Linked DNA regions of Homo sapiens: all the other regions are linked to region 1. The links come from fine-mapping of genetic effects on gene expression. A gene starts in region 1. Each other region holds a variant in brackets. All regions are shown on one strand. Distances are between the middles of the regions. Region 1 holds the start of TRIOBP (TRIO and F-actin binding protein). Region 2 holds the start of GALR3 (galanin receptor 3). Region 3 holds the start of LOC105373027 (a long non-coding RNA gene). Region 4 holds the start of LOC102724378 (a long non-coding RNA gene). Region 5 overlaps POLR2F (RNA polymerase II, I and III subunit F). Region 6 holds the start of SLC16A8 (solute carrier family 16 member 8). Region 7 holds the start of LOC105373023 (a long non-coding RNA gene).

What was found. PIP is the estimated chance that this variant, and not a neighbour inherited with it, causes the effect.
Region 2: its variant is the best candidate, but not a certain one, in a credible set for the expression of TRIOBP in whole blood (INTERVAL, PIP 0.67).
Region 3: its variant is the best candidate, but not a certain one, in a credible set for the expression of TRIOBP in NK cells (Schmiedel 2018, PIP 0.56).
Region 4: its variant is the best candidate, but not a certain one, in a credible set for the expression of TRIOBP in whole blood (TOPMed, PIP 0.56).
Region 5: its variant is the best candidate, but not a certain one, in a credible set for the expression of TRIOBP in whole blood (Lepik 2017, PIP 0.59).
Region 6: its variant is the best candidate, but not a certain one, in a credible set for the expression of TRIOBP in whole blood (INTERVAL, PIP 0.84).
Region 7: its variant is the best candidate, but not a certain one, in a credible set for the expression of TRIOBP in gastroesophageal junction (GTEx, PIP 0.89).

What each region holds. Positions count from the first base shown.
Region 1 is chr22:37,694,637-37,698,708 of GRCh38, forward strand. TRIOBP (TRIO and F-actin binding protein) reads left to right here and starts at 2,412. Exons shown (of 24, transcript NM_001039141.3): 1 at 2,412-2,453; 2 at 2,952-3,060.
Region 2 is chr22:37,821,049-37,825,120 of GRCh38, forward strand. It overlaps GALR3 (galanin receptor 3), which reads left to right and starts at 2,334. Exons shown (of 2, transcript NM_003614.2): 1 at 2,334-2,717; 2 at 3,675-4,072. The coding sequence starts at 2,359. The variant C/G (reference allele first, on the strand shown) is at 2,515.
Region 3 is chr22:38,075,354-38,079,425 of GRCh38, forward strand. PICK1 (protein interacting with PRKCA 1) reads left to right here. Exons shown (of 13, transcript NM_012407.4): 13 at 1-348. SLC16A8 (solute carrier family 16 member 8) reads right to left here. Exons shown (of 6, transcript NM_013356.3): 6 at 2,784-3,351. The coding sequence ends at 3,035. It overlaps LOC105373027 (a long non-coding RNA gene), which reads left to right and starts at 3,288. Exons shown (of 3, transcript XR_938249.3): 1 at 3,288-3,380; 2 at 3,501-3,594. RefSeq lists an enhancer at 1-108. The variant C/T (reference allele first, on the strand shown) is at 2,038.
Region 4 is chr22:37,742,498-37,746,569 of GRCh38, forward strand. All of the region lies in intron 11 of TRIOBP (TRIO and F-actin binding protein), which reads left to right. The region is part of intron 1 of LOC124905115; the gene reads right to left. LOC102724378 (a long non-coding RNA gene) reads right to left here and starts at 3,447. Exons shown (of 3, transcript NR_160697.1): 1 at 3,122-3,447; 2 at 2,974-3,043; 3 at 1,813-2,340. RefSeq lists silencers at 3,307-3,606, 3,947-4,072. The variant A/G (reference allele first, on the strand shown) is at 1,889.
Region 5 is chr22:37,958,437-37,962,508 of GRCh38, forward strand. It overlaps POLR2F (RNA polymerase II, I and III subunit F), which reads left to right. Exons shown (of 5, transcript NM_021974.5): 3 at 910-1,040. Among named protein-coding and RNA genes, the nearest start is that of POLR2F, 6.8 kb to the left of the region's middle. The variant A/G (reference allele first, on the strand shown) is at 1,582.
Region 6 is chr22:38,082,907-38,086,978 of GRCh38, forward strand. It overlaps SLC16A8 (solute carrier family 16 member 8), which reads right to left and starts at 1,278. Exons shown (of 6, transcript NM_013356.3): 1 at 1,082-1,278; 2 at 136-455. BAIAP2L2 (BAR/IMD domain containing adaptor protein 2 like 2) reads right to left here. Exons shown (of 14, transcript NM_025045.6): 12 at 3,336-3,543; 13 at 2,780-2,826; 14 at 1,994-2,469. The coding sequence ends at 2,394. RefSeq lists enhancers at 762-1,543, 3,104-3,883. The variant G/A (reference allele first, on the strand shown) is at 2,391.
Region 7 is chr22:36,922,181-36,926,180 of GRCh38, forward strand. It overlaps CSF2RB (colony stimulating factor 2 receptor subunit beta), which reads left to right. Exons shown (of 14, transcript NM_000395.3): 2 at 1-103; 3 at 1,064-1,187; 4 at 3,807-3,997. The coding sequence starts at 28. LOC105373023 (a long non-coding RNA gene) reads right to left here and starts at 3,763. Exons shown (of 2, transcript XR_938230.2): 1 at 3,570-3,763. RefSeq lists enhancers at 108-678, 3,324-4,000. The variant C/T (reference allele first, on the strand shown) is at 2,278.

The DNA of each region.
Region 1 (4,072 bases):
GATTACAGGCATGAGCCACCCCGCCCGGCCAGGAACTCTTCTATTCTGGGAAACCAAGTGCTCAGATGAGAATTGGGGATTGTGTTAGAAAGGAGAGAATGGGGCCTGGCACAGTGGTTCGTGCCTGTAATCCCAGCACTTTGGGAGGCTGAGGTGGGCCAATCACCTGAGATCAGGTGTTTGAGACCAGCCTGGCCAACGTGGCGAAACCCGATCTCTACTAAAAATATAAAAATTAGCCAGGTGTGATGGCAGGTGCCTGTAATCCCAGCTACTTGGGAGGCTGAGATGAGAATCACTTGAACCCGAGGGCCAGAGGTTGCAGTGGGCCAAGATCACACCACTGCACTCCGGCCTGGGTGACAACAGCAAGACTCCATCTCAAAAATGAGAGAATGAGGCCAGGCGCAGTGGCTCACACCTGTAATCCCAGCATTTTGGGAGGCCAAGGCGGGCAGATCACGAGGTCAGGAGATCAAGACCGTCCTGGCTAACACGGTGAAACCCCGTCTCTACTAAAAATACAAAAAATTAGTTGGGCGTGGTGGCGGGCACCTGTAGTCCCAGCTACTTGGGAGGCTGAGGCAGGAGAATGGCATGAACCCGGGAGGCGGAGCTTGCAGTGAGCAGAGATCGCGCCACTGCACTCCAGCCTGGGCAACTGAGCGAGAATCTGTCTCAAAAAAAAAAAAAAAAAAAAAATGAGAGAATGGGTGTTGGGGTATAATCAGCAGATTATTTCACAGAAGCCAAATATATAAAGGGCTGTCATGAGGGGATCCATCTGTGTGGAGCTAAAGTCACAGCAGACATTTATCCATCCTCGGTTTTCACACCAAGGTCAGGCCCTGTGCTAGTACATGATGAGCTGTGGCCATAGTTACCTGAGGCTGGGCTCAGCCCATTAAAATAAAACTTCTTTTGGTACGATCTGTTTTGGGGTGGCCTGAGCTCTCCCCAGGGGGGTGAGGTGAGGAACTGTGGGGGCAGGTGTTCTGGGGTCATATAAGCCTCAGCGTCCATCCTTTCCAAGGTCCCAGTGGTGCTGACGACCTTGACGCCCCCAGGTTTGAGCCATTGACCTTCCTTTGGCTTGCAGGTGGCTCTGGTGAGGGGCTTCAGTTCCTCCTGAGCTTGGAGAGCTCACTGCCTGCTCCCTTGTGAGGACTGCTAGAAATGCCCGCCTTGTTCTGAGCTAGCATTGGCCTCCCCCAGCCACCTTCAGAGGTTTGCAGGCTGTTCTCAGCCTTTCTCGATCTCCTCACCTTTGAGCCACCTCCAAGGAGAAGCCTTCTCTGCCTTCCTCCTTTCTCCACCTGACCTCCCATGATAGTAGGTGTTTCCTTCTTTTAAACACTGAACACAGTGAATCCTGGTTTGTCCCTCGAACCAGACCAGAGCTTTCTGAGTGAGAAATTGTATCTTAGTCATTTCTGTTTCTGCTCTGGGCACAAGCTTGTGTCAATGTAGGTTCTCAGCCAATCCTGTCTGAATCCAACCCCCAGGTGATCCCCAACAACTCTCAAAATAATCTAAGATTTCTGTGACCCTAGTGCCAAGCTCACCTGCCTACAAGTGTCTGAATCTAGTTTACCTTCCCTGTCTCATCACTGCACCCATCTCTCCTGGACTCCTGCTGCAACCTTCCTCCCTGTCCAGTGAATTTCGCCCTCCTCCTCCCATCCCAGTCGCCACAATTGGCAAATATCAACCAAAAGGAAAAAAGATGGGAAACAAGTTTTTTTTTTTTTTTTTTTTTTTTTTTTTAAGGCGGAGTCTCACTCTGTTGCCCAGGCTGGAGTGCAGTGGTGTGATTTCGGCTCACTGCAACCTCCGCCTCCCGGGTTCAAGCGATGCTCCTGCCTCAGCCTTCTGAGTAGCTGAGACTACAGGCGCACACCACCACGCCAGGCTATTTTTTTTTTCTTTTTTATACAAGAGTTTTGCTCTGTCGCCCAGGCTGGAGTGCAATGGCGCTATCTCAGCTCACTGCAACCTCCGCCTCCTCGGTAAGAAAACTGTCATGACAGAGAGGTTAAGACTCTAGTCCAAGGTCTGTGCTAAAGCCAGCCCAGCGGACTGTCGGCAGAATGAACCAACGGGAAAGAGGTCAGAAGGAGCCAGATCCGCCAGTGCCAGCCCTCTCCAGGGCTCCCTGGGGACCCCCAGCGGGCAAGGGCTGCAGGCGGCCCAGGCTAAACGTGCAGTGAGTCCCGCTCTCAGAGGTATCTGCGCCCCGCCTGCCTCCGCCCCGCCCCTTGTTCTGGTTTGTCCAGTCCCACAGAGTCCCACAGTCTTCATGTAAATGAGGCACCCAGAGAGAGCCTATGCGAGCGTGGCAGGGGCGTGGCCTTCCACCTCCCGAGCATCGCTCTGATTCATTGTTAAAATAAAGAGGCCATGACCCTGGCACTCCCACCCCGGCAGCCCCTGTGCGTGGAAACCCAGCCAAGGTTAGCACTGGGCCTCAGAAAAGAGGAGCTGGTAGGGGGAGGCCTACAGGAGGGGTAGGGGTCGAGGGATCCGGGGAGGAACTGGCTGAATGCCTGGATGGAGAGGGTCCCGGGTCCATTCTCTGGGTGGGGCATGTGTAGCTGCTTAAGGTTTTGATTATTATATCCACATCTCAAGTGCATTTTAGAGAAGGATTCTGCCTATTGGTTGTGGGTAGGGGAGGAAACGGGAGCAGCGAGGGGCACGTGGAGTAGAGCCCCCTACCCACCCCCAGGAAAATGAGCGGCGTTCTCCTGCTAGGCGACGCTCCTTTATGTGGCCAGACCAGGAGAGAAACGCCCAGGACGGGCGGGGCCGATGCGCCCCTCTTCCACCACCAGGAGTCGGGAGGACGACCGCCCGGGGAGGATCAGAGACCCTGGGGCCACGGAAGGACCAGTGGGTAGCCCTCTCCCCACCGTGCCTTGCTGTCGCCCCCACCGCATTCCCTTCTCCAGGTCTGATGATGGAGGAGCCTTGGCCCTGGCTGTCCCAGGGGAGGAGGTGAAATTCCTCAGCTCTCCACCAAGATTGGCCACAAAAGCCTGATCCCCTGGAACACAGCAGGTGAGGATGGATGTGGGCAGGTGACCTGGGGGCACCAAAAGCTGCAGGTGTTTTGGGATGTTGGGTTCCTCCCACCCCCCACCCTCCCCCTGGGGCTCTGTGTGAGTGGGGAGGCCATCTTTAAGTGATTCTCCTGACCCAGCTCCACTCCAGGGCATGGATGTTGGTGGCCTTAGGGGCACCCAGAAAGGAGAACCCTTGCACAAGTAAGATACCAGGGCGGCCGGGCGCGGTGGCTCAAGCCTGTAATCCCAGCACTTTGGGAGGTCGAGGTGGGTGGATCACAAGGTCAGGAGTTCGAGACCAGCCTGGCCCATATGGTGAAACCTCGTCTCTACCAAAAATACAAAAAAATTATCCGGGCATGGTGGCACATGCCTGTAATCCCAGCTATTTGGGAGGCTGCGGCAGGAGAATTGCTTGAATCCGGGAGGCAGAGGTTGCAGTGAGCCGAGATCGCGCCACTGCACTCCAGCCTGGGTGATAGACCGAGATTCTGTCTCAAAAAAAAAAAAAAAAAAAGAAAGAAAGACACCAGGGTTTCAGAAGGGTATGATGCTTCACACCTGTAATCCCAGCACTTTGAGGGAAGGAGGAGGATTACTTGAGGTCAGGAGTTCAGGAGTTCAAAACCAGCCTGGGTAACACTGCAAGAGCCTTTTTTTTTTTTTTTTTTTTTTTTGAGACACACTGTTGCCCAGGCTGGAGTGCAGCGGGGCGATCTTAGCTCCACTGCAACCTCCACCTCCTGGGTTCAAGCAATTCTCTTGCCCCAGCCTCTTGAGTAGCTGGGATTACAGGCATGCGCACCACGCCCAGCTAATTTTTATAGTTTTAGTAGAGACAGGGTTTCATCATGTTGGGCAGGCTGGTCTTGAATTCCTGGCCTCAAGTGATCTGCCTGCCTCAGCCTCCCAAAGTGCTGGGATTATAGGCGTGAGCCACCGCACCTGGCCAAGAGCCCATTTTTACAAAATAAAAAAGAAAAAAATTAGCTGGGCGTGGTGGCGTA
Region 2 (4,072 bases), 130 kb after region 1:
GCTAGGATTACAGGTGTGAGCCGCTGCGCCTGGCCCATAACAAACTTTTTACAAAAGATAATGTGGGGGGAAAAAAAGAAAGAAAGAAAGAAAATGTGCGGGTCATGTCTCTGCTGTAGAATCTTAGTAGTTCCCCGTTGCTATCAGGTAAAGCCAGACTTTTTGGACAGGTACCTAAACCATCTGGGCTCCAGCTGGACTAAGGCTCTGGAAAGAGCTTCCGGAGAAGGATCTCAGGATTTGCAGAGCCTGAGGGAGGAGTCTCTGGAGTCTGCCGAAAGGAGACTCAAGTCCTGGTTTCCCACTCCAGGAAACCCCAGTCAAGACTAGGAATCCTTTTTTTTTTTTTTTTTTTTTTTTTTTTTGAGACGGAATCTCGCTCTGTCGCCCAGGCTGGAGTGCAGTGGCACGATCTTGGCTCACTGCAACCTCCAACCCCTGGCTTCAAGCAATTCTCTGCCTCAGCCTCCCGAGCAGCTGGGATTACAGGTGCCCGCCACCACACCCAGCTAATTTTTGTATTTTTAGTAGACATGGGGTTTCATCATCTTGGCCAGGCTGGTCTTGAACTCCTGACCTCATGATCCACCTGTCTTGGCCTCCCAAAGTGCTGGGATTACAGGCATGAGCCACCGCGCCCAGCCTCTTCTTTTTTTTTTTTTTTTTTTTTTTGAGACAATGTCTCACTCCATCACCTGGGCTGGAGTGCAGTGGCGTCATCTCGGCTCATTGCAACCTCCACCTCCCAGGTTCAAGCGATTCTCCTGCCTCAGCCTCCAGAGTAGCTGGGATTACAGGCGCCCGCCACGACGCTCAGTTAATTTTTGTATTTTTAGTAGAGACAAGGTTTCGCCACATTGGCCAGGCTGGTCTCGAATTCCTGGCCTCAAGTGATCTGCCTGCCTCAGCCTCCCAAAGTGCTGGGATTACAGACGTGAGCCACCATGCCCGGCCTAGGAACCTTTTCTAAACATGGATTGGAGCAAGAAGGTGCAGGGATAGGGGATGGAGTCACATCAGGCTGGGCCACAGGAGGTGGGAGTGCCAGAGACTGGCTGGGCCCTGGGCACAGAGGGGTTAACTACAAAGCAAATCACAGAGAGCGAGATCAATGGGTTACTGGCTGCAGAGAGAGGAAAAGGCAGCAGCAACGCAGAGAGGCAGAGAAGAGCCAGGCAGAAGAGCCTGCCACCTGGGGGAAATCAGGGACTGAGGAGGAAGTGGCCAGTGGCTACTCCAGAGGGAGTGCCCAACTCCGGCTCAGCAGAGGGGGCAGAGGAGAGGAGGGGCCTTAAAGGCAAAGGGGGAGAAGTAGAAGGCAGACCAGTACCTGCAGGGAGGCACCAAGGGGCAGCCGCTGAATCAGGAGGCCCACCCAGCCCGGCCATTCCACCCAGGATCAAGCCCACTGCCCAAGGCGGAGGTGGGTGTTGCCCATCCTGGGCTTTGGGGACCTACTGCATGCTGGGTGCTGGGATGGGGGCAGACATTGCCTTTCTTCCCTACTCCCTGCCTGACCCCCCTTTCCCCTACTTTGTCCCACCACCCCAGTGGTCTCAAGCCTGCAAGGAGATCCACAGGCAGTAGGAGACATGGGCTGTAGAGTGGGATGGGGGTGAGCATGGGTGCGGTGTGCACACACACAAGTTGTCAGAGGCACCACCTGTTACAAGCTCTCAGATGAGCACTCTAGCTTAAGAGGCAGGATACCAGGGTGGCAACAGCCCCAGAGCTGCCATTTCGAGTGTGATATTATCCTCCCATGTCCCCTCTCTGGGCCTCAATTTCCCTATGTGCAGAGAGGAAGCAGTGACCTACACGGTCTTCCCAGTTTTGCCATTGTGATGATCTCACTATACTGGACCCTCCAATGACTCAGGGATGTTACCCGTGTTTTGCTAAGGCTACAGCTTGTAGCCAGAGAAAGCCCTAAACCCATGTCCCAGGGTCTCCCCTGAGCTTCAGATCCCCATTGAGAAGGAAAACATACCAGTTTCTGGGTTTGGCCCCTCCCCCCATCGCCATATCTTCATCCTACTTCGCTTGTGCCTTCCCCAGCCTCGTGGGTTGAAAGTGTCCCTCAAATACCTAGGTAGTCCTCCAGGCAGGACTCCAGGGGTGTTCCTTAGGAAACTGAGGAACTCTCACCCCTTGAACACCACGAGCTTGCTCACACAGTGACACTCAGCGATGACTTTGGCTCTGCTCTCCCCTCCTCCATCTCCCACGAGCTTCCAGCCCAGAACACCTGGCCAGACCCAGGTCGGGGGAGTTAGATCCCGGGGTCAAGCAACCAGAACTGGGGGCTCTTGCCTGAGGATTCCAGCTTCTCTTCCCAGGTGCCCGTCTGATGGGGAGATGGCTGATGCCCAGAACATTTCACTGGACAGCCCAGGGAGTGTGGGGGCCGTGGCAGTGCCTGTGGTCTTTGCCCTAATCTTCCTGCTGGGCACAGTGGGCAATGGGCTGGTGCTGGCAGTGCTCCTGCAGCCTGGCCCGAGTGCCTGGCAGGAG[C/G]CTGGCAGCACCACGGACCTGTTCATCCTCAACCTGGCGGTGGCTGACCTCTGCTTCATCCTGTGCTGCGTGCCCTTCCAGGCCACCATCTACACGCTGGATGCCTGGCTCTTTGGGGCCCTCGTCTGCAAGGCCGTGCACCTGCTCATCTACCTCACCATGTACGCCAGCAGCTTTACGCTGGCTGCTGTCTCCGTGGACAGGTGCGCTGTGCCTGGGGCCTGGCTGGGCAGGGCTGTGGGGGCGGGGGTTGGGGGAGGAGTCCTGAACAGATCCTCACTGGCCTTAGGAAGGAGAGAGTGGGGGACCAGAAAGGGAGGTGGGTGGGAGGAAACAAAAGCTCCCTGACCCCTCGCAAGCAGCCTCTGGGCACCTGCAGGGCGTGCTTGAGGGGACTGTCCTGCCCTTCCCCTCCTCCACTGTGAACTTCCAGAGGACGCCTCTGAGTCTCAAGTGGCAGCACAGGGTCTGGCACATAGTAAGTGCTCTGTAAGCGCGAAATGAATCGCAAAAGAAGCTCACGAATGCGTTCATCAGTTTTTTTGTTTTGTTTTGTTTTGTTGTTTTTTTTTTTTGGATCTTGGCTCACTGCAACCTCTGCCTCCTGGGTTCCAGCGATTCTCCTGCCACAGCCTCCTGAGTAGCTGGGATTACAGGCCACCACACCTGGCTAATTTTTTGTATTTTTAGTAGAAACGGGGTTTTGCCATGTTGGACAGGCTGGTCTCGAACCCCTGACCTCAAGTGATCCGCCCGCCTCGGCCTCCCAAGTGCTGGGATTACAGGCGTGAGCCACCGCGCCCAGCCCAGCTATTTTCTAACTGCCCACACCTGGCCAAGCTGTGCACACATCTGCTTCCACAGCTTGAAACTTGGGGTCAAATCCAGGCTCACTCCAGCTGATGACCCTGGGCAAGTCACTTCTCTCTGGACCTCATCTGACGCATCCATAAAATAATCCTAGAAATAACAAGTCACCGGGATCGGGCCCTTGCTAGGTGCAAGGGCCTAAGCACCTTGCGCGTTCACACCCTTAATCCCCGCCACGTCCCCCACGGTTCACAGGAGGCGCACTGGGCCGCAGGGCCCGGGCGCGGGACGTGGCGCGGGCCCCTGCGGGAGGGCACCTGCCCGCCCCGCTGACCAGGCGCCCTCCGCAGGTACCTGGCCGTGCGGCACCCGCTGCGCTCGCGCGCCCTGCGCACGCCGCGTAACGCCCGCGCCGCAGTGGGGCTGGTGTGGCTGCTGGCGGCGCTCTTCTCGGCGCCCTACCTCAGCTACTACGGCACCGTGCGCTACGGCGCGCTGGAGCTCTGCGTGCCCGCCTGGGAGGACGCGCGCCGCCGCGCCCTGGACGTGGCCACCTTCGCTGCCGGCTACCTGCTGCCCGTGGCTGTGGTGAGCCTGGCCTACGGGCGCACGCTGCGCTTCCTGTGGGCCGCCGTGGGTCCCGCGGGCGCGGCGGCGGCCGAGGCGCGGCGGAGGGCGACGGGCCGCGCGGGGCGCGCCATGCTGGCGGTGGCCGCGCTCTACGCGCTCTGCTGGGGTCCGCACCACG
Region 3 (4,072 bases), 380 kb after region 1:
CCTCCCGGCTCCCCGGCCAGAGGGAGAGCTTGGTCTCTGGACCTGCCTTAGGAAGGAGAGGGAGGGCAGGAAGGAAAAGAAAGGACTTGGAGGTGGCAGGAGTCCGAGCCCTGCTCCTTGTGGGCGCTCACACTGCCCCCGGAGCCTGCTGGGAGTGGGGCCAGCCGTGGACAGCTGAGGTTGGGGTCAATGCCTCCTGGGCACCCTTGCCTCGCCCCAGACCGGCCCGTCCAGTCCCCATCACACCTCGGCGGCCTTTATTTATTCTGTTCCCCCAGCTCGGCCACTTCTCTGAAGGAGGGCTGGGTTCTGGGCCTGTATCGAATAAACACAAACCTGGATGGCGCAGTGGTCGCAGTGGCTTCAGACCCTCCTTGTCTGCCCCTCCCCTCCACCGTCTATTGACAGCGCCCTTGCTATGCACCATTTATGCCTCACTGAAGTGTTGCAGGGCTAGCACTGTGGTCCCCTCACAGCTGGTGATTTGAGGCTCAGAGAAAGATCTTGCCCAAGGCCACGCCCTGTGTGGGGACACAGTGGGTTTTAACTCAGATCTGTCCTGAAGGCCTGACTTTGCCACCTGCCTCCAAAGCTTTCTGCTTTGTGGAACCTTTTGTATCTCACCCCCCGCCCCCTTCCCCCGCCCCCAATCTGTGACCTTTCTGTGCTTCCGACAGGAAATAAACCTCTGGGGGAGAGAAGGGCAGACATGGAGCCAGGGCGACTGAGCCCCCAAGTAGGGGAGGGTGGTGAGGGGTAAGTGCTGACTCCAGGCGCGCCTGTGCTGCCCGGGTGGTGGGGAAAGGCGTGTGGGGAGAGGTGCTCGGGGGCTGTGGGAAGAGGGGCGTGGGGAGAGGCCATGGGGAGTGTCTGCAGAGTGGCAGAAACAGGGTGGCCACTTCTCCTGCTTCTCCTGGCCAGCCTCGGCCTGGTGTAATCAGTCATAGTGGCCCTTGTCACTCTAACGTGTTCCTGTTTGGACGATGAATATGGCCATCCTGAGAATGCGAGGGGGCAACAGGGTGTGCGAGGTGGGCTGAGTCCAGGATGGAAAAAGGGTTTCTGCATCAGCTTTGAGCATGCATTGCTGGGCAGAAACCCAAATGGGAGGCTTGGCAGGGGTGGGACATGGAGGAGGGGCTGGCTGTCACCAGGAGCCCACCTGGGTCCCCGCAGAGCCATCAGACAGACCACACTGCCTCCCTGAAGGGGGCAGCCAGAGTGGAGGCCAAGAGCACAGGCTGGAACTGACAGCCTGGGTTCGTTCCTGACCTCCCTGGGCCTCAATTTCCCTATCTGAAGTGTGGCACCTACCTTATTGGCTTGTTAGGAGATTAAATGAACATCTGGAGAGGGCTTAGAACAGGGCTTGGCACAGAGCAAGCACTCTTAAATCTTAAATAAAGTCAGACGGGCCGGGAGCGGTGGCTCACGCCTGTAATCCCAGCACTTTGGGAGGCCAAGGCGGGCGGATCACGAGGTCAGGAGATCGAGACCATCCTGGCTAACACGGTGAAACCTCGTCTCCACTAAAAATACAAAAAATTAGCCAGGCGTGGTGGCGGGGGCCTGTAGTCCCAGCTGCTGGGGAGGCTGAGACAGGAGAATGGTGTGAACCTGGGAGGCAGAGCTTGCAGTGAGCCGAGATTGTGCCACTGCACTCCAGCCTGGGCAACAGAGCGAGACTCCATTTCAAAAAAATAAATAAAAAATAATAATAATAAAGTCAAACGCAGTCACTGCTCTAGTGGTGCAGGGGAAGCCACAGGCCATATAAGTAGAAGCCGGCCAGGCATCTGTGGGGCTCCCCAGACCTTCCTGGGGCCTAGATGGAAAATGAGGGCCAGCAGGGACCAGTGGGGAGGGGTCACTATGGGCCGGGCTGGAAGGTGAGGGGAGTTTGCGGAGGGAAGGCGGCTTCCTCTGCAGGGGCCTGTTCACCACGCTCATGATTCGGAGGGAGGCAAAGAAAGGAGGGGTGTGATGTATGGGAGGAGGATAAATGCATAGAGGGAATACATCGCGTCTTGCCAGATT[C/T]GTGCACCTGGATCCAAGTGCAGGAGGTCAGATGTCAAAGTGTGAGGGAGATCGTGGGACGCTCCGTGGGGAGAAGGCAGGTGCTGGGATCAGCAGATGACCTGGCTGCCAGCACAGTGTCCACAGCAAAAGCCCCTGGCCCTGGACACCCAAGTTTATCCTCTAGTGGGAGAGATGCCCTCTGGGAAGGTGAGGGGACATGGCCACCTCGTGGAAGGCAGCAGGGCCCATGGTGTTACTGAGCGCCTGGTCCCACCCTCCCCAGGACCCCAGGGGACGGAGTCGTATGCTCAGCCTCCAGTGAGCAAGGAAGTCAGCGGGGCTGGGATTCAAACCGACCCTGACCCTGGGAACTGTGAGTCTTCTCAGACCGCTCGGGCCCCCCGCCTGCAGGCAGACCCCAACCTTGAACCCTAGTTGCTGCCAACCCCTCGTTCCCTCCACGGGAAAAGGCAGATGCCAGCGAGGGGGCCTTCAGCAGACAGCTCTGAGCAGTGGGGCTGGGCAGGAGCCAGGCACTGTGCCCACCCAGCCCTGTGCCCCTGAGCCCTGTGCCCGCCCAGCCCCTTGTGTCTCTACACCTGGGAACGATGGGTCTCTTCATCCATCTCTGACGCTTCCTCCCAACACTGCCCACCTAGAAGCCTGCTTAGGGGGCCTGGAGAGAGACCTCCCAGACTCCCTCCCACCACCCTGACCCCCAACTCAGGTGGCAGCCGGAGCCTGGGCGGAGGAATAGAACCTTCTGTCGTTCAGCTGAGCTTTATCACCAGTTTCCTGTTGCTCCATAGCAGCTTCACTGGCGATGGGGCAGGGCCTGGCGGAACTTGGGGCACAGATGAGGGAGGCAGTTCCCAGACACCCAGGGGATCAACTGGAGCCCAGACGTGGACCCCGGGAGTGACCACCCCAGACCAGCCTCCCAGCGTACCAGGCTCTCTGAGACAAGAAGCTGTGTTCCCAAGTCACTGGGCCACCCCACCCAGAGCACCCTGAGTTATACAGACTCGGCAGCCAGCCTCGGCCTCGCCTCTATTTCTGGTTCTGTGGGCTCGCCCCGGGCGCTGAGCACCTCCAGGGCCTCCAGGTTGCCGGGTTCCTCTGCAACAACAGGCAGGGGCTCAGAGTCCCCTTCAGCCTCAGCGTCCTCAGTGTCACTGGCTCCGCCCTCAGTGCCTGGGCCTGACGGGGCAGCTTTAGCACAACGCAGGCAGCAGTTGGTGGCGACAGCCATGAAGACCCCAGCCAGGGCCACCTCAGAGCCGGCCAGGTAGAAGATGATCTCATAGTTCTTCAACACATCCACCAGGCGGCCTGGGGAGGAGGAGGAAGAGGAGGGAGAGGTAAGGTCCTGTGGGGTCCTCCCCTCACTCTCCTGCACTCTCAGGTCAAGGGTGGTGCCACTGACTTGGTGAGGCTCCTGGGTGACACACACATGCCCACTCTTTATTCCTGTTTTACAGATGTAAAACCTCATGTGGATTCTGCCATTTGAAACCTTAAAAATGTCACTTGCTGTCCCTGGACCTCAATTGCTTAAGTGATATGTGGCTTCTGGTGAGGCGTCCCCTCCACCCTCTGATTCAAGCCCCACAAGTGTCCTGTGACTTGCTTGGCAGTGGGGTATCTGGGGTGGGAGCGGGGAGGGGGCCCTGGGCTTAGCTCTGCCCTCCTGGGGGCCTCCACCTCTTGCTGTTGCCATGTAAATGCCCTGGTCCTCAGGGGCTTGGCTTAGTCCTCCCACCCCTCTGTCCCAGGAGGCCCATGAGCATCCCAGACCAAGCCATCATCGGCACAGGTGGGGCTTGTGGGCCAGTAACTCATTTCCTTCTCTATTTCTCAAGGCTTCTATCCCTTGTAGATACTACTTTCAAACTCAGGAAAGTCTCTCTTTTATTATGTTTTTTTTAGGGATGGGGTCTTGCTGTGTTGCCCAGGCTGGTCCTGAACTCCTGAGCTCAAGGGATCCTCCCGACTTGGCCTCTCAAAGTGCTGGGATTACAGGTGTGAACCACTGCACCTGGCTTCAGGAATT
Region 4 (4,072 bases), 48 kb after region 1:
AGTGATCCGCCCGCCCTGGCCTCCCAAAGTGCTGGGATTACAGGCGTGAGTCACCCAGCTGAGCCCAGAATTTCCTTTCGCTGCTCTTTGTGGTTAAGGCACCGAGGGTGAGCAGGCAAGCATGGTTATCTGAGTAGTGTGGTACCTTTAAGCCATGGGCAGGAATTACCTTGTCTAACTAAAGGTCACCAACACACAGCACGTCTGGCAGGAGGGGGCAGGTAAGTCCTTGGTAGAGCGAAGGAGGAGCGAAGCAGGGAAAGCACTCTGGGGTAATGATGCTGGCTAACCAGCACTTATTGTATGCCTACTACATGCCCAGCTCTGTGTTCACTGCATGGCGCCACCTAATTGCATTTGATCCACACTCCCAGGTGCAGTTAGACGCCTACTGTCCATTTTACAGATGATGAAGTGAAGCTCAGAGAGGGAGGGTCACTTGCTCCAGGTCACACAGGGAGCAAGGGGCAGAACTGAGATTCAGACCCTGCTCTGGCTGACCTCAGAGCCCAGTGCTTCCAACACGCCCCCTACACCACTGCCTTCACATCCTGATCTCTCTGAGCCCTCCTGCAGCTCTGGGAGTCCCCACAGATTTTCCCCATTAGAAAGATGCGGCAACCGAGGCTTGGTGAGGTTGGCTACAGTGGTTCTCTCATGTGGGAGTGAGGGAAATGAAGAGCTAGGGATGGAACTGCCAGCAGGGCCTCCCAGTTACACAGAGCAGATTTAAACTTCTCTTGGGCTGAAGCAGTGAAATTAGCCCAAGGCCAAGAGCCAGAAAGCCTGGAGTCGAGTTCTGGCTTGGCACCTAACTTGTGTGCCCTTCTCTGAGCCTTACCTTATTATTCTCAGTAGAGTAACGGTTTGAGACTGGATAACCTCGAAGTTTGGTAGCTCTGGTCTTTGCCAGTTTAATAACTCACCCCTGGGTCCCTGAGGCTGTGCTGTCTCTGACCTGCCAGGATGAGTTGTGGTTTCTTCATTGGTGCATTCATTCATTCGAGCCGTGCTTACGGAGGATGTGCTGTGGGCTTAGGCCCTAGGCTGGTTTCCAAGATGTAGACAAAAAACATTCCAGCCCTGGCCACTGGAGCCCAGTTAGGTAAGGACACTGACATGTAACTGATGAGAACAGTGTGGTCACCACTTTAGTGGGGAAAGGTACAGATGTAGGGAGCACTGGGCCAGCAGTTCCTAAGTCTGCTGGGGACACTTTGGCTTCCTTTGGTCTGAGACTTCAAGGAAGAAATTTTCCAGGCCAACAAGCATTGGGAGGGGGAAGGGGAGAAAGAGAGAGAGAATGTGTGTGTGTGTGTGTGTGTGTGTGTGTGTGTGTGTGTGTGTGCTGGGTGTGTGTGAGTGTGTGCTGGGTGTGTGTGTGTGTGTGTGCTGGGGTACAGAAGACAGGAAGAGAAGTGTTCCAGGCACAGCAGAGAACCATCAGGGGGTAGAAGGACCTGTCTTATCCTGGGAATTCCTAGTAGTCCAGTGCTGTGTATCTTTTTTTTTTTTTTTTTTTCTGAGATGGAGTCTCGCTCTGTTGCCTAGGCTGGAGTGGAATGCAGTGGTGTGATCTTCACTCACCGCAACCTACGCCTCCCAGGTTCCAGCGATTCTCCTGCCTCAGCCTCCCAAGTAGCTGGGATCACAGCCATGTGCCACCACGCCCGGCTAATTTTTTGTATTTTTACCAGAGACGGGGTTTCACCATGTTGGCCAGCCTAGTCTCGAACTCCTGACCTCAGGTGATCCACCCGCCTCGGCCTCCTAAAGTGCTGAGATTACAGGCATAAACCACCGCGCCCAGCCTCCAGTGCTGTGCATCTCTTTATTTACTTATTGTATTTTGCAAAATTGACCAAAGTATGTGTCTCTCCAGCCTGTC[A/G]AATGAGAATCTGGAAGGCCAGGATGACAGGCAGGAGCCAGGTTGTGATGGTTCCTGACTGCCTAGAAGAGGAATGTAGCACTGATCTGTCAGCATTGGTGATGTGTGGAAGAACTTTGAGCAGGGAAGTGGTCTGGTCACTGTGTTGCGGGTACTAGGAGGAGTCGCAGGGGCCAGAAAAGCCTGGAGGAGGCTGGTGCTGTTAGGTGCCCAGGGCACTGGACCAGGACCCTGGTGGTAGGTGAGGTCTCCTGCGTGTTCATTCACTCTCCCAAGGACTGACTGCCTGAGTGAGGTGCAAGGGTAGGGTGAGAAAACTCAGCCCGGGGTGCCAGAAGGCCAGTTTCTAGAGTTAGATGGACTTAACCTTGGCCTCATTCCTCATGGTGGAGAGACTCCTGGCAGCAAATGCTGGGAAAGAACTTCAGCTCCCTGGGCCTCCATTTCTTTATCTGCAAAATGGGAACAGTAATTATAAAAGCAATAATTTTTTTTTTTGAGAGGGAGTCTCGCTCCGTCTCCCAAGGTGGAGTGCAGTGGCACAATCTCTGCTCACTGTAACCTCTGCCTCCCGGGTTCAAGCGATTCTCCTGCCTCAGCCTTTTACATAGCTGGATTACAGGCGCCTGACACCACGCCCGGCTAATTTTTGTATTTTTAGTAGAGACGGGGTTTCACCATGTTGGCCAGTCTGCTCTTGAACTCCTGATCTCAATGATCCACCCACCTCAGCCTCCCAAAGTGTTGGGATTACAGACCTGAACCACCGCGCCCGGCAAGGGCAATAATTTTTGAACCCCAAATCAAGATGACAGAATAATTGAAATGCCAATTATTCCAAGCTTCCCTGCCTCCTTGCCTAAGGATAGCTAATGAGGGATAAAGAGGTTGTCCTAGGTGCCTTACTTGAATTAACACTTAATCCTTCCAGCAACCTCATGAGGTAACAGCATTACCCCATTTTACAGAGAGTGAAATTGAGCACCGAGAGGTGCCTTGCTTAAGGTAACACTAGGCTGGAATCCCCGTGCCACACGAACTTCCTAGTGCATTTAGCAACCAATTCCACCACGGTCCCTACTCACCTGCAGGAAAAGAGCATCTAACAAACGGCCCAGCGTTCTGGGAACCTGAGCAACGGGTGCACGCCCACACCTGAAAAACCCCAAACCAAAAAAGACCCATTTGTGAGGAGTGGGCATTTGGGAGAGACCCTGCCATCCAAGAACTCACTTTGTGTCCAGCTTACTCGCTAGGAATTCCGCCTCTTCCTGTGTGACCTCGGGCAAATCGGCTCACCCCTCTGAGCCTCCGTTTTCTCATTAGCAAAATAAGACCTCCCTCCCAAGTCTGTGGTGAGGACGAAAATCGACTCTTGGCGAGTGGGACCCGCTGAGTCGTTAGTACTGGGTGCTTTGCCCCGGTCCCCGCCAAATCACGGCGCCGAGCCCTAGCGGACCCATCGCTCCGGGGCCGGGTCGGGAAGCGCAGCCTGGGCGAGTCGTGCCCACGCCCGGCCGCCCGCATCCTCCGCCCCCGCGCCATTGCCGGAGTCACCTGCACCCTGGGCCCTTCCTTCCTCCCAGCGCGCCCGCGGCCCGGGCCCGCCCGCCCTCCGGCCGCCACCGCCCTCCCTTCCCTGCGGCCCCATCCGCCCACCCCGCCGTCCCGCCGTCCCGCCGCCCCGCCGCCCTAGCGCGCCCGTCCCGTTGCGGCAGGTCCCGCCCCCGGCCCGTCTCGCGCTTCCATTGGCCCGCCGCGGCCCCCGCCGCTGTTTGTCTCGGCTTCCCCGCCACCCATTGGCCCGCTCGGGTCCTCCCAGGAAGTTTGAAAAAAAAAAAAAAAAAGTTTTATGGGCGGATGGAAGGGGCCGGGGCAGCGTCGGGGAAAGGAAGGGCCGGAGGCGCGGCGGCGGGCGGCCGAGAGGGGCGGCGGCGGCGGCGGCGGCGGGGTTCCCGCGCCGCGGAGCCCGGCCCGAGAGCCGCGTCCACGTTCCTGCCTCCTGCTCCCGCCGCCCTGGGGCGCCGCCATGACGGTGAGTGCCCCAGTCAGCCGCCCGCGCCCGAGGCCGGGAGAAGGGCGACGACCCGAGGCAGAGCCCAGCCTCTCCCCTCCGGGGCAGCCCCCTCCTCATTTCCCGAAGGCGAGAGGAGGGCTGGGCCGGAAGACGGGGCCACCTCCGAA
Region 5 (4,072 bases), 260 kb after region 1:
GCCCGCCTCGGCCTCCCAAAGTGCTGGGATTACAGGTGTGAGCCACTGCGCCTGGCCTGTTTACTTAATTCTTTATATACCACAGAATTTATTCTCTTGCCTACAATCCTCTACGCACCTTTTGTTCTAATTATTGTCCACAACTAGTTGTCCAAACCTCTTTCTCCTCTATGCCTTTGCATGTTGCCTCCTTCCTCATTGGTTTGACAGCTCCTGCTCATCCTTCTAGGTGAGCTCAAGCCTCATCCCTGGAGTTTTCCTAACCCCCAGTGTGAGTGAGGTGTCCCCACCTCCTCGGGAACTCTGTTGCACCCTTCATAGCACCTGCTCTGTTTACTCTTGTCTCCCCTTTAGACCATTAATTGAGAGCAGAAATTCCTAGCTTTCTTTCTCAGCATCTGTTAACAATATCTGGCTCAGGACAAATGCTTAGTAAGTAATTGTTAAATATTCCTGCCTTCACCTTGACTTTTCTAGCCACTTGGCCCATTGGCTCAGCTCCCCTATCTGAAAGATGGGAAGACTATTCCTAGCTTCCTGCTTAGGGTAATTTTTTTGTGCCAGGACCTCTTTTACAGGACCAACATTCTGATACCACCCCATCTCCAGGCCCTCTGCTCTCTTCTGGATGAGGCAGTTAGCTCTGGAATCTCAGACCTCCATTACCAGGTCTGAGGCTTGGTCAGGTTAGCTGACTTTCCAAGCCTCTGAAATGAGAACTGTAATCCCTGCCTCATAAGGTTATTGTAAGGATTACATGAGTTGTTAGGAAGCAGTTATGTGGTCCCCTGGCATGCAGTAAGCATTAACGGTGGCTGTAGCGAGAATTGTGATTGTTGTCATTATCACTCTCCCTGTAACCCAAAAGTGCCACCTGAGTCTTTCCCTCTTTTTTGTCTTGGTGTCCAGGAAGGCCAGGAGAATGTCGAGATCCTCCCCTCTGGGGAGCGACCGCAGGCCAACCAGAAGCGAATCACCACACCATACATGACCAAGTACGAGCGAGCCCGCGTGCTGGGCACCCGAGCGCTCCAGATTGCGTGAGTGATTGCCCCTTCACTGTCTTCTCCATCTGTCAGGCCACAGTAAGCTCTTGTACCGCTGATCTTTCCCAGCCTGGCACCTGAAAACAGACTCTCTGCTCTCACATTCCAAAAGTGGTGCCGTCCCTGCGTACCAGGCATTGAGCTAGTCCCCTGCCCTCAGGGAGCTTGTGATCTAATAGGAGAACTAGGACATGAACATCTGAGAAGTCAAGTAACAATATGGGAGAAAAACGATAAAAAAAAAAAAACAGAACTAGATGGTTGCGTGTCAGATTAGTGCAGCAAAAAAGGTGAATTCAGAGCCAATGTGTACCAGTGTAGTTTTTTTTTTTTTTTTTTGAGATAGAGTCTCGCTGAGTCACCTAGGCTGGAGTGCAATGGCACAATCTCAGCTCACTGCAACCTCTGCCTCCCAGGTTCAAGTGATTCTCGTGCCTCAGCCTCCCAGGTAGCTGGAATTACAGGCATGTGCCACCATGCCTAACTAATTGTTGTGTTTTTAATAGAGACGGGGTCTCGCCATGTTGCCTAGGCT[A/G]GTCTCGAACGCCTAGCTTCAAGTGATCCACCTGCCTCTGCCTCCCAAAGTGTTGGGATTGCAGGTGAGAGCCACCGCGCCCGGCCATGGTGGTTCTTTGTTGTTTTATTTTCCGAGTCAAGATCTCAATCTGTTGCCCATGCTGGAGCACAGGGGCCTGATCATGGCCCATTGCAGCCTCAAACTCCTGGGCTCAAGCAATTTTCTTTTCTTTTTTTTTTTTTTTGACAGAGTCTTGCTCTGTCTCCCATGCTGGAGTGCACTGGCCCAATCTCAGCTCAGTACAACCCCTGCCTCCCGGGTTCAAGCGATTGTCCTGCCTCAGCCTCCCGCGTAGCTGGGACTACAGGCGTCCACCACCACACCTGGCTAATTTTTGTATTTTTTCTTTTTTCTTTGAGATGGAGTCTCGCTCTATCACCCAGCCTGGAGTGCAGTGGCGCGTTCTCCGCTCACTGCAAGTGCTGCCTCCTGGCTTCACGCCCTTCTCCTGCCTCAGCCTCCAGAGTAGCTGGGACTACAGGCGCCCGCCACCGTGCCCAGCTAGCTTTTTGTATTTTTAGTGGAGACGGGGTTTCACCATGTTAGCCAGGGTGGTTGGTCTCTTTCTCCTGACCTCATGATCCGCCCGCCTCGGCCTCCCAAAGTGTTGGGATTACAGACGTGAGCCACCGTGCCCGGCTATTTTTGTATTTTTAGTAGAGACGGGGTTTCACCATATTGGCCAGGCTGGTCTCAAACTCCTGACCTTGTGATCCACCCGCCTTGGCCTCCCAAAATGTTGGGATTACAGGCGTGAGCCACCGTGCCCGGCCGGTGCAATTTTCTTTTTTCTTTTTTTTTTTTTTTGAGATGGAGTCTCGCTCTGTCGCCCAAGCTGGAGTGCCGTGGCGTGATCTCGGTTCACTGCAATATCCACCTCCTAGGATCACGCCATTCTCCTGCCTCAGCCTCCCAAGCAGCTGGGACTACAGGTGCCCACCACAACGCCTGGCTAATTTTTTTGTATTTTTAGTGGAGATGGGGTTTCACGGTGTTAGTCAGGATGGTCTCCATCTCCTGACCTTGTGATCCACCTGCCTTGGCCTCCCAAAGTACTGGGAGTACAGGCATGAGCCACCGCGCCTGGCCGGCTCAAGCAATTTTCTTGTCTCAACCTCCCAAGTAGCTTCAAGCTGGGATTACAGGTATGTGCCACTATGCCTGGCTTTGTATTTTTTGTGGAGATAGGGGTCTTGCTATGTTGCCCAGGCTGGTCTTGAACTCAGCCTCAAGTGATTCTCCTGCCTCAGCTCCCAAAGTGCTGGAGCTGGGATTACAAGCATGAGCAACCATTCCTGGCTTTAAGGTGGTTCTTGATGTGAGGTAGACTATGGCCAGTCCAGCAGAGTGGGGGGCCCTCCAGCTTGAAAGCACGCTAGAGAGATGAAAGCACAGAGCAGTGGTGGGGTTTTGGGGATTTGAAAATCAGCAAACTTCCCTCCTCTCCCACATTTGGGAGAATAAAGATTCAGGAGATAGAGTAGACAGGTGGAGATGCGAGTGTCCAATGAGTGCAGATGTGTTAGCCATAGGCAGTGCAGGCCTTCAGATGCCTGCTAAGGTTTGGGGCAGACTGGAGAACAGACTGGAAGCACCCTCTGCCAACAGATGGCTTTGAGAAAGCAGGGACTTTCAAAGAGGCTGGGCCACAGATGCCTGCTTTTTTTCCCCCCAGGCTCACCTGTCAGAATAGTTCCTCCTCCTTTCTTTTGAGGAGTAGGTGAGGGGACAGAGCGGGGTACTCTAATGGTACTGTGGGGAAGCATGAGACTGAGAACAGGAGCCCCTACCCCAAACTCCCTATAGACTGATGTGGGAAATGGTGGGTATCTGGAGGAGCGGGGGTAGTTCAAGTAGGGAATAATGGAAATTAGCCTAGAAAGAAAAGCAGCTGGGTGCCGTGGCTCACAACTGTAATCCCAGCACTTTGGGAGGACGAGGCAGGTGGATTGCTTGAGCCCAGAAGTTCAAAATCAGCCTGGGCAACATGGTGAAACCCCATCTCTACAAAAAATACAAAAATTAGCTGAGTGTGGTGGCGTGCGCCTGTAGTCCCAGCTACTCGGGAGGCTGACGTGGGAGGATCACCTAAGGCCAGGAGGTTGAGGCTGCAGTGAACTGTGATCGCACTACTGCACACCAGCCTGAGTGACAGAGACTCCATCTCAAAACAAACAAACAAACAAACAAAAAAAAAACAAAGGAAAGCTGGGGCCAGATTTGTGGACTCTGTGTGCTTACAGGGGCAGCAAATGCTGTCTGTACATTCTCCTCCTTAGTGTTCAAGCAGCACTGGGCTGTTGCCTCCTCTAGTCCTGTAGGGGTAAAGATGACCATCATGTCTACTTCAATAAAGGGTTTTATGGGTGGACAACATTGTTCTCCCCCATTCCTCAGTAGCGGACCTCTTCTCAGCCTGGTTGCACTCCTTGCTCTTATGCATGGCATT
Region 6 (4,072 bases), 390 kb after region 1:
GGGAGGGGCTGGGCCAGCAGCCTAGAGAAGGAGGGGGATGGAGACGAAGCATGGGGAAACTGAGGCACAGGGCTACCCACGTGAGGGTGGCTCAGGTCTGGGAACCAAAAGGGGAAACGGAGGTAGGACTCTCACCCCAAGTCTCCTTCTCCTGCAAAGGGCGCTGAAGGACGAGGGGAGGACGACGGGTCCCACCTGACTCTGCACCTCTGCAGGCTCCCTCTGAAGGACAACTGCTGGCCCCTCAGGGCCTCAGGTGGAAGGCGTCGGGAAGTGGAGCAGGTATGTGCCTGGAGGTGGGCGTCCAGCACCAAAGTCGCCCCGTACGCGTGAGGGTCTCGGGACAACAGAACAAACAGCAGAGGGGCAGATGCCGGCTGCAAAGGGCCGCTGTGCGTGATTTTCCTCTTTAGCCTTCCGCCATGTTCCTAATGTTTCTCAGTGATCACAAATGACTATTGTCATTAGAACATTAAGGGGACAAAAGCCACTTTCAACAGATATCAGCCAGGGGAGCTGAGTTCCCATGCATCTCAGCTCAGCCATGGATTCCCTCCCTGACTTGGGCCGGTCGCCTCCCCTCTCCCAACCTCCCTTTCCTCCGATGTAAGATGGGTGATTGATCACCCCGAGGCCAGCTGGGAATCTTGCGGGAGAGGAGTCAGGTCTCTGGCTTCTGCCAGACAGGTAGGAACCTTAGCAGCACTGAGAGAGTGGCCTTCTGCCCTCCAAACCTCAAACCCTCTATATGAAAAGAATGGCTCCAAAGCCTGTCTCATTCCTGGGGCTCCACCCGGGGCCCTCACAGCAGTTACAAGCGCCCCCATAACAGATGAGGAGGGTGTACTCAGAGACAGGTGCACCAGGAGCCGGGGGCTGGGGATAGCCTCCTGCCCTCCTGCCTGGAGTGTCCCTCCTGGCACTGGGCAGTGCCACCACCCCCAGGGTATCCGGGACTCTGCCCCTCCTCCACTAGGACCAGGTTGTGGCTTTTCCTGCCTGTTGTCCTCTTGTCACAGGGGCAGCCACTTGAAGGTGGAGACAGGAGGGTGATCCCAGGCAGCCCTCACATCACACTCACCTGAGCCTGCCTCGTGGGTTTGGGGGTCCAGCCTCACATCTCCTGAGGCCTGCAGGGAGGGGCCGCCGCCGCAGCTCCCGGTGAAGCTTACCCGGATGGGGGCTGCCAGACACCCCAGCTTCCCACCAGCCTGGGCTGAGCCTCTGGCCGACTCCCGCCTGACGCTCCCTGCCCCAGGCCTGGAGCTTAGAGTGTGTGCCCCCACCACACCTCACCCCTGCTAAGAGGCTTTTGTCCAGGAGGGGAGAAGAGACTGGGAGCCCCAGGCCAGGCTGGGCCTCGGCGGTGGGCTCCCTGTCCCAAGCCAGTCCAGGAGGGAGGAAGAGAATCCCTGTGCCTCCTGGAGCCTGGGGTGGTAGACACAGAGACCTTGCCCAGGGGGTCCTAGTCTGGTGCTGGGGGCACAGCCCTGCCCTGAAGAGACCCCAACGGTTCTAATCACCTCAGTGCCTCATCTGCCCCCGCCCCAACCCCCCGCCCCAGGCCACATTCCAGGAGGGGCTGGCAGCTTTCTCTAGAATGAAGCTAATCCACGCCTGTGCCTGGGAATGTGGGGGGGGGAGGGGCCAAAACAAAGGGTGCTGTGTCCAGGCCGCCTGAGGGCAGCTTGCTGGTGGTCCCAGCCCTTGGCCACTGCCACCTCTCCCCTGACCCGAGCAGCCGCTACTTCCTAGGAAACCCACAGGTCGAAATGAGAGCAGGTGGAGATGGGGGCTGCAGCGCGAGGGCTTTGGGGCAGCCCTAAAGAGTTCTCCAAACAAACAAACAAGGGGCTGGGAGTGAGATGGCTTCCCGGGGAACAGCCAGGACCTCAGTACCCCCTAGACCCCATTCTCCAATGGGGGAGTCTCTATCCCTCACCCCCTGCCCTGTCCCCCAAATAAGACACCACCAGTCCTGCTGCCGCATCACTTTGCGTCCACTTCCTTTATTTCTCATCATTTACAAAAGATGTACAGAGAGGGCATGTGTTGGGCACGGAGCAGGTACAAGGGGCTCCTCCCCACGGGGGCAGAAAAGGGGGAAAGAGGTTAGGGGGCAAGAGGTGGGCCCCCCAGGGAGAGTCCTGGAGCCCCTGGAGGGGGAGAAATTGTCCTGTCCCCCCATTCCGCCTGCTTTACTTTGAAGGTCTCGGACCCCAAGCCAGTGCTTTGGAGCTGCTCAGGCTGCCGGGGTGGTCTGGGGAGGGCAGCCACCCCCCGTCTCAGGGACCCGCTTCTTGGATCTGCTGCTGTTGCTGCTGTCGCTGCCATTGCCAGCTCTGAACAGCCCCTGGGCAGGTGCACTGTGGGGTACGACCTCGGACCCC[G/A]CCTCAGCGGATGAGGGGTGCTGAGCGGTCATTGGTGATGGTGGGACGAAGCTTGACAGTGGCAAAAGGATTTGTGCCCCTGTAGGAGGAGAGAGAGAATGGGGTGAGAAGGGCAGATGATCCCCACCTGGCCATGGCTCAGGAAGGCAGCTGGGCAACTGAGCTGGGTCCTGCCTCCTGCCCCTATTTGGTCTCCATCCACTCCTTGCCCCGCTTCATCTTTTTTTTTCTTTTAAGAGATAGGGTCTCACAGTGTTGCTCAAGCTGATGTTGAACTGTTGGAATCAAGAGATCCTCCTGCCCCAGTCTCCCTAGTAGCTGGGACTACAAGTGTGTGCCGCCGCACCTGCCACCCTCCTCACTGTTTGGGCCCCCATGTGAGGACTCACCTCGGGAAGAGCTCCTGTGGTGGGTACTGCTCTGAGGACATCAGTTTCTGCAGTGGGGGTGGGGAAGGGCTGGTTTGGTGGGGAGAGGGGCAAGCAATCCCTTGCTCCTCCCCTCCCTCTCCCCATGCCCAAGGGCAGAGGACTGGGCCAGAGAGCCCCTGCCATGCCAGGCTCCTGGAAAATGAGACCCTGACGTTCTGAAGCCCAGAATTCTGTGGGTTGCAGAAGTGAGAAACCCCTAGGCCAGAGCACCACCTCCAAGGACTAACCACGCCCCCAGGATAAGACCGGGGTGGCTCCATCGGAGATGCCCTCCCTGGCCTCCCCCAGCCCCGTCCTACTGGCTAGCCCCAGGCCACACCCTGTCCTGGGACCCTGGTCTTCCCCTTCAGCCCAGACTCAGCCCCACACCACCCCTCCCTGCACTGAGGAACAGACTGAGTGAGGCCAGGTAGGCGGGTCCCCTGCCAGACAGCCGGTGACAGAGCCTCGGGATCCCTGCTCTCCTGCCTCCCTGCCCGCTGGAGGCCCCAAGAGAGGGCGGGCAAGGGCTCACCTTGACGTCAGTGGCAACTGCTGTGCTGCCCATGCTGCTGCGGCGGCTGCTGGGCAAGGGTGGAGGTGCAGGGCTGGGGGCACGGCTTGGCACCCGGCTTGGGGTGCGGGAGCGGGACTGGCCATCCCAGTACTCCGAGGGTGCTATGGAGTTGCCCGGCCGGTCCAGGAGGTCATCGAGGCTGTGGCTGCCCCGGAGTGGGTAGGACCTAAGTCCAGAGAAAGGAGGGGGAAGGAAAGGGGTTGGGGCCTGTCCAATCCCTTGTCCTGCCAGTAGCTGGGGCACCTTAGGCAGGAGGCATCCGACAGCTTCCTCCCCGCACCTGCATGAAAGGAGACTGTTGACCGGAGGGAGGTCCTGAGAGGAGGCAGAGGGATGGACGCAGTGACCTTCAGGGCAGAGAGAGGGGCTCAGGGCCGGTGGTTCTCCAGGGGCTGAAGGGGGCTGGGCCCACTCAAGACTGCACCTTGCCACCTGGGTGCAGTGACTCACGCCTGTAATCCCAGCACTTTGGGAGACCGAGGTGGGTGGATCACCTGAGGTCAGGAGTTCAAGACCAGCCTGGCCAACATAGTGAAACCCTGTCTCTACTAAAAATACAAAAAGTAGCCAGGTGTGGTGGTGTGTGCCTGTAATCCCAGCTACTCAGGAGGCTCAGGCAGGAGAATCGCTTGAATGCAGGAGGCAGAGGTTGCAGTGAGCCAAGATGGCGCCACTGCACTCCAGCCTGGGTGACA
Region 7 (4,000 bases), 770 kb before region 1:
CCTGCCTGTCCAGAGCTGACCAGGGAGATGGTGCTGGCCCAGGGGCTGCTCTCCATGGCCCTGCTGGCCCTGTGCTGGGAGCGCAGCCTGGCAGGGGCAGAAGGTGAGTCCCGTGGCTCCCACCCACTTCCCTGTCCCTGTCCTCACTGCTGCACCCTGGGGGAGGGCCGCAGCGTATCCTCAGGATCCTGCCCGCCAGCCCTCCTCCTGCTCCCCTCCCTCTGTCTCTCCCCCTGGCCTTCCCTGGGCCTCCCCCGCTTCCCTCCTCCTGCACATTCCTGCTCATCCTGTCTTGGAAAGTCCAGCTGAGCGTGTCTGGCTTCCTTGCCCACATTTCTCAGGGCGGCACTCCCGGCCCCTAGGCTCCAGGATGGCTGCTCTGGCCGTTTCCCTGCCCCTCCTTCCCCAGCAGACACTCTCTGTGCCTCAGTGGTTCCCACCTCCGGGACTTTGCTCCTGCAGGGCCTTGGCTGGGGTTCTCTCCCTGCTTCAGCCGCTAGCACCCTCCTTGTGCCTGAAGCCCGCACTGGGATGCTCCTGGGCTCTTGAGGTGAAATGGCCCCTCCCAAGGGCTCCCAGAGACCTGGCTTCTGTGATAATGCTGGGACCACAGTCCCCTTAACAAATACCAGGCTCCTGAGGACGGGGACTAGAGAGGAGGTGGGAGGTTGCAGGGTAGAACTCTGCCACGCTGCATCCCAGGGCTGAGTGTGTGCCCCCTCCCAGGCTGCACAGTCGGTCCAGGGGCCAGGCCTGTGCTTGATGCATGTCCCTGTCCTGGGGTGGGGGGAGGGGACCGTGCCCAGGAACAGCACACTGCGGAGGCCCAGAAACCATGCTGAGAACCAACAGAATGTCTTGCTTCTGCCAGGAGAGGAGGGTCCGCAACCAGGAGCCCACCCCGGCAGACATGAACACATGTACATGTGCCTGGCCACCTGGTGCCTCTGCAGGGACCTGGGAGACCCCTCCCCAGAGCGGGACATCCCAAAGCAGCTGGGGGTGATGGTGACAAGGGTCCCTGCAGGAAAGAGAGGTGACCCCCTTCTACCCCTCTTGTCAGAAACCATCCCGCTGCAGACCCTGCGCTGCTACAACGACTACACCAGCCACATCACCTGCAGGTGGGCAGACACCCAGGATGCCCAGCGGCTCGTCAACGTGACCCTCATTCGCCGGGTGAATGAGTGAGTGATGCTGGGGGCAGGGGCCACGGGCAGGGGCTACGACGTCCCCTGTGCCTGGCATGGGGCGACAGTGTAGAGAGGGACCTGTCAGGTCAGCCTCGGGGTGGGAGTGGACAGAGGACAGAGGAGGAGGGAGGCCCTGCAAGAGCTCCTGCTCCGCCAGGCACCTGCGAGGCCGGGTGCTGCCGTCTGACCTGGGGTTTCTGCGGAGTGCCTCCTACACTGATGTTGGTGACAATGGTGGTGGTGGCAATGGTGAAAATCTTCTCTTGTTTCATCACAATTTAACACAATTGCCCCACATGACCTATCTTAGTTCCTCCTCACTGTGAGGTGGGCAGGGCCAGGCCACGAAGCCCCAGCTGTGCCACTGCCTGCCTGTCCAGAGTAGACCAAGGAGAGATGGCGCTAGCCTGGGAGTTCACAGATGGGAAAACTGAGGCCCTGGAGGTGAGGTGCCAGCCCTGGCCACGGGGTAGACAGTGGCAGAGCAAGCTGTGTGGACGTGTCTGGGAGGGGGCTCCGCGCTCTCCCAGGCCCCCCCTCCGTATGTGGGCTGCCACCTCTCCCACCCAAGCTCTCCTGGGCACGTGCCACAAGGGAAGGGGACCAGAATCGCTCTGGGGTGTTGGCCAGGGTCTAAATCAGCCATAAATTAAGTAATTAAATAGCTGGAACCAGAGAGGCAGATGACAACCCATTGGAGGTCACCCCAGCGTTGGGGGGCGGGGCCGGCTCTGCCACCCCCACCCCTCCACCGCCTTCAGTTCTCCAGGGCGTCTCTGTCGGACCTTCTCCATTCTCCTCAAAGACCATCCTGCCCCTCCCTGTGACCTGCTTCCTGCTGCTCTGACACAACAGGGGACCAGGGAGAAGCTCCCCACCCACCCCACACTCACACTCCCCACCCCCTTTGCCCACCGCCGGGGCCTGGGCCTGGACCAGGGCTCCTGTCTGAGGCCTGAGACACGATGCTGTCTGGTCCTGTTGCTCAGGAACATCACGGCCCCCAAGTCCCCACTCTGCCCTGTGCCACCCACCATGCCCTCTCCCAGGATCTTTCCCAATTGCCTTGCAAACCTGCCCCAAC[C/T]CCCTCTCAGATGCCCACAGGAGTGCAGCGCCTGGGCATCTCCTGACCTGGCAACCCTGCGGCCCCTCTTTCTCTGCTTCCTTTGACAGCAGCATTCCCTAAAGAGTTGTCCACATTCACCACGTCCAGTGTCTTTCCAGCCATTTCCTCCTGGGCCCACTCCCCTAGGATGCTGCCCCCACCAGGCCACCCAAACTGCTCTGGTCCAAGTCAGCAAATGTCCCAGGGAGCAGGATCTCATGGTTGGGCCTCCGCCTTCTTCCTACTTGACCAGGGGCAGCCCCTGACAAGGAGGACCACCGCGGCCTCCCTGCAGTTTCTCTTGCACCTGACTCTGCCCACAGCTCACCCAGTGCCCCCGGGGCCCTGCCCATCCTCCTCTTTCTCCTTGTCTGCTGCCTCCTGATGGCAAGACACCCAGGCCCAGTCCATGGACCTCCTCTCTGCTGTATCCACTCTGCAGAGACCCCCTCAGGCCCCTGGGGCATCTCCCAAAGGTGACCTCAAGCCCACAATTCCCCTAAGCTCCAGCCCTCCAGGCGTACTGGCCTCTCCACCTGTCACTTAGACAACAGGTGTCTCCGACTCCAAACGTCCTCAACCAAAGTCCCGCTCTCACCCGAGCTGCGCTGCTGCCTCTGTCTTCCCCATCTCCCTTTCTAAATGGGAGCTCCTAGTGGCTCAAACTAAACAACAGGGAGGATTTTGTTTTGTTTTTAAGTCTCTTTTGTCACCATTCCTTCCTGACTGCTACATCCCTCCACCAGCAAATGCTGCCAACCTTATCTCAAGCAGAACATGAATCTCACCCACGCCAGCCTGACCACCCTGTTGCACGCCACTTCCTGTCACCTGAATATTCCAGAAGCCTCGTAACTGGGCTCCCTGCTTCCAACATTGCCACATTCCCACCTCAGTCTATTCGCAACCGAGGACCCTCAGGAATCCTTTCAAAGCATTTATCAAAATCTACAACACCTCTGCTCATGACTGTTTCCCACTCACTCGCAGTGAGATCCAATCCCATCATGTAGATGGATGGGTCTCCTAGACCTCCCTATCACACGCTCTACTCCCTGCGCACTGGTTTTAGGCCAAGCCACGCAGCACACCAAACTCTGCCTGTCCCAGGGCCTTTGCACGTGCTGTTCCCATTTCCTGAAATCCTCACAATTTGCACAGTCCCTCCCTCAATGCCTTTAACATTCTGCCCCCAGGTCACCTCCTTAGAGAAGCCTGCTTGTCCCATATTTCAAATTGCCTCCCTGGCCCAGCCCTTCCTCCCTCCTCACCTGCTTCTTGCTTTATTTTTCCACATGAAGTTCTCTCCACTGCACACGCTACACACTTTGTTCCATGCGGGTCCCCTTCTCCCAGGATGGCAGCTCCGTGGGCAGGATTTTTGTGTGTTTTATCACTGCTGGCCCCTGATTCTGAACAGAGCCAGGCATGTGGTGAGCACTCGAGGAACCTTTCGTGAGTCAGTGATACCCATACACCCTGGGCTAAGCCGTGTCCTCTCCCAACAGGGACCTCCTGGAGCCAGTGTCCTGTGACCTCAGTGATGACATGCCCTGGTCAGCCTGCCCCCATCCCCGCTGCGTGCCCAGGAGATGTGTCATTCCCTGCCAGAGTTTTGTCGTCACTGACGTTGACTACTTCTCATTCCAACCAGACAGGCCTCTGGGCACCCGGCTCACCGTCACTCTGACCCAGCATGGTG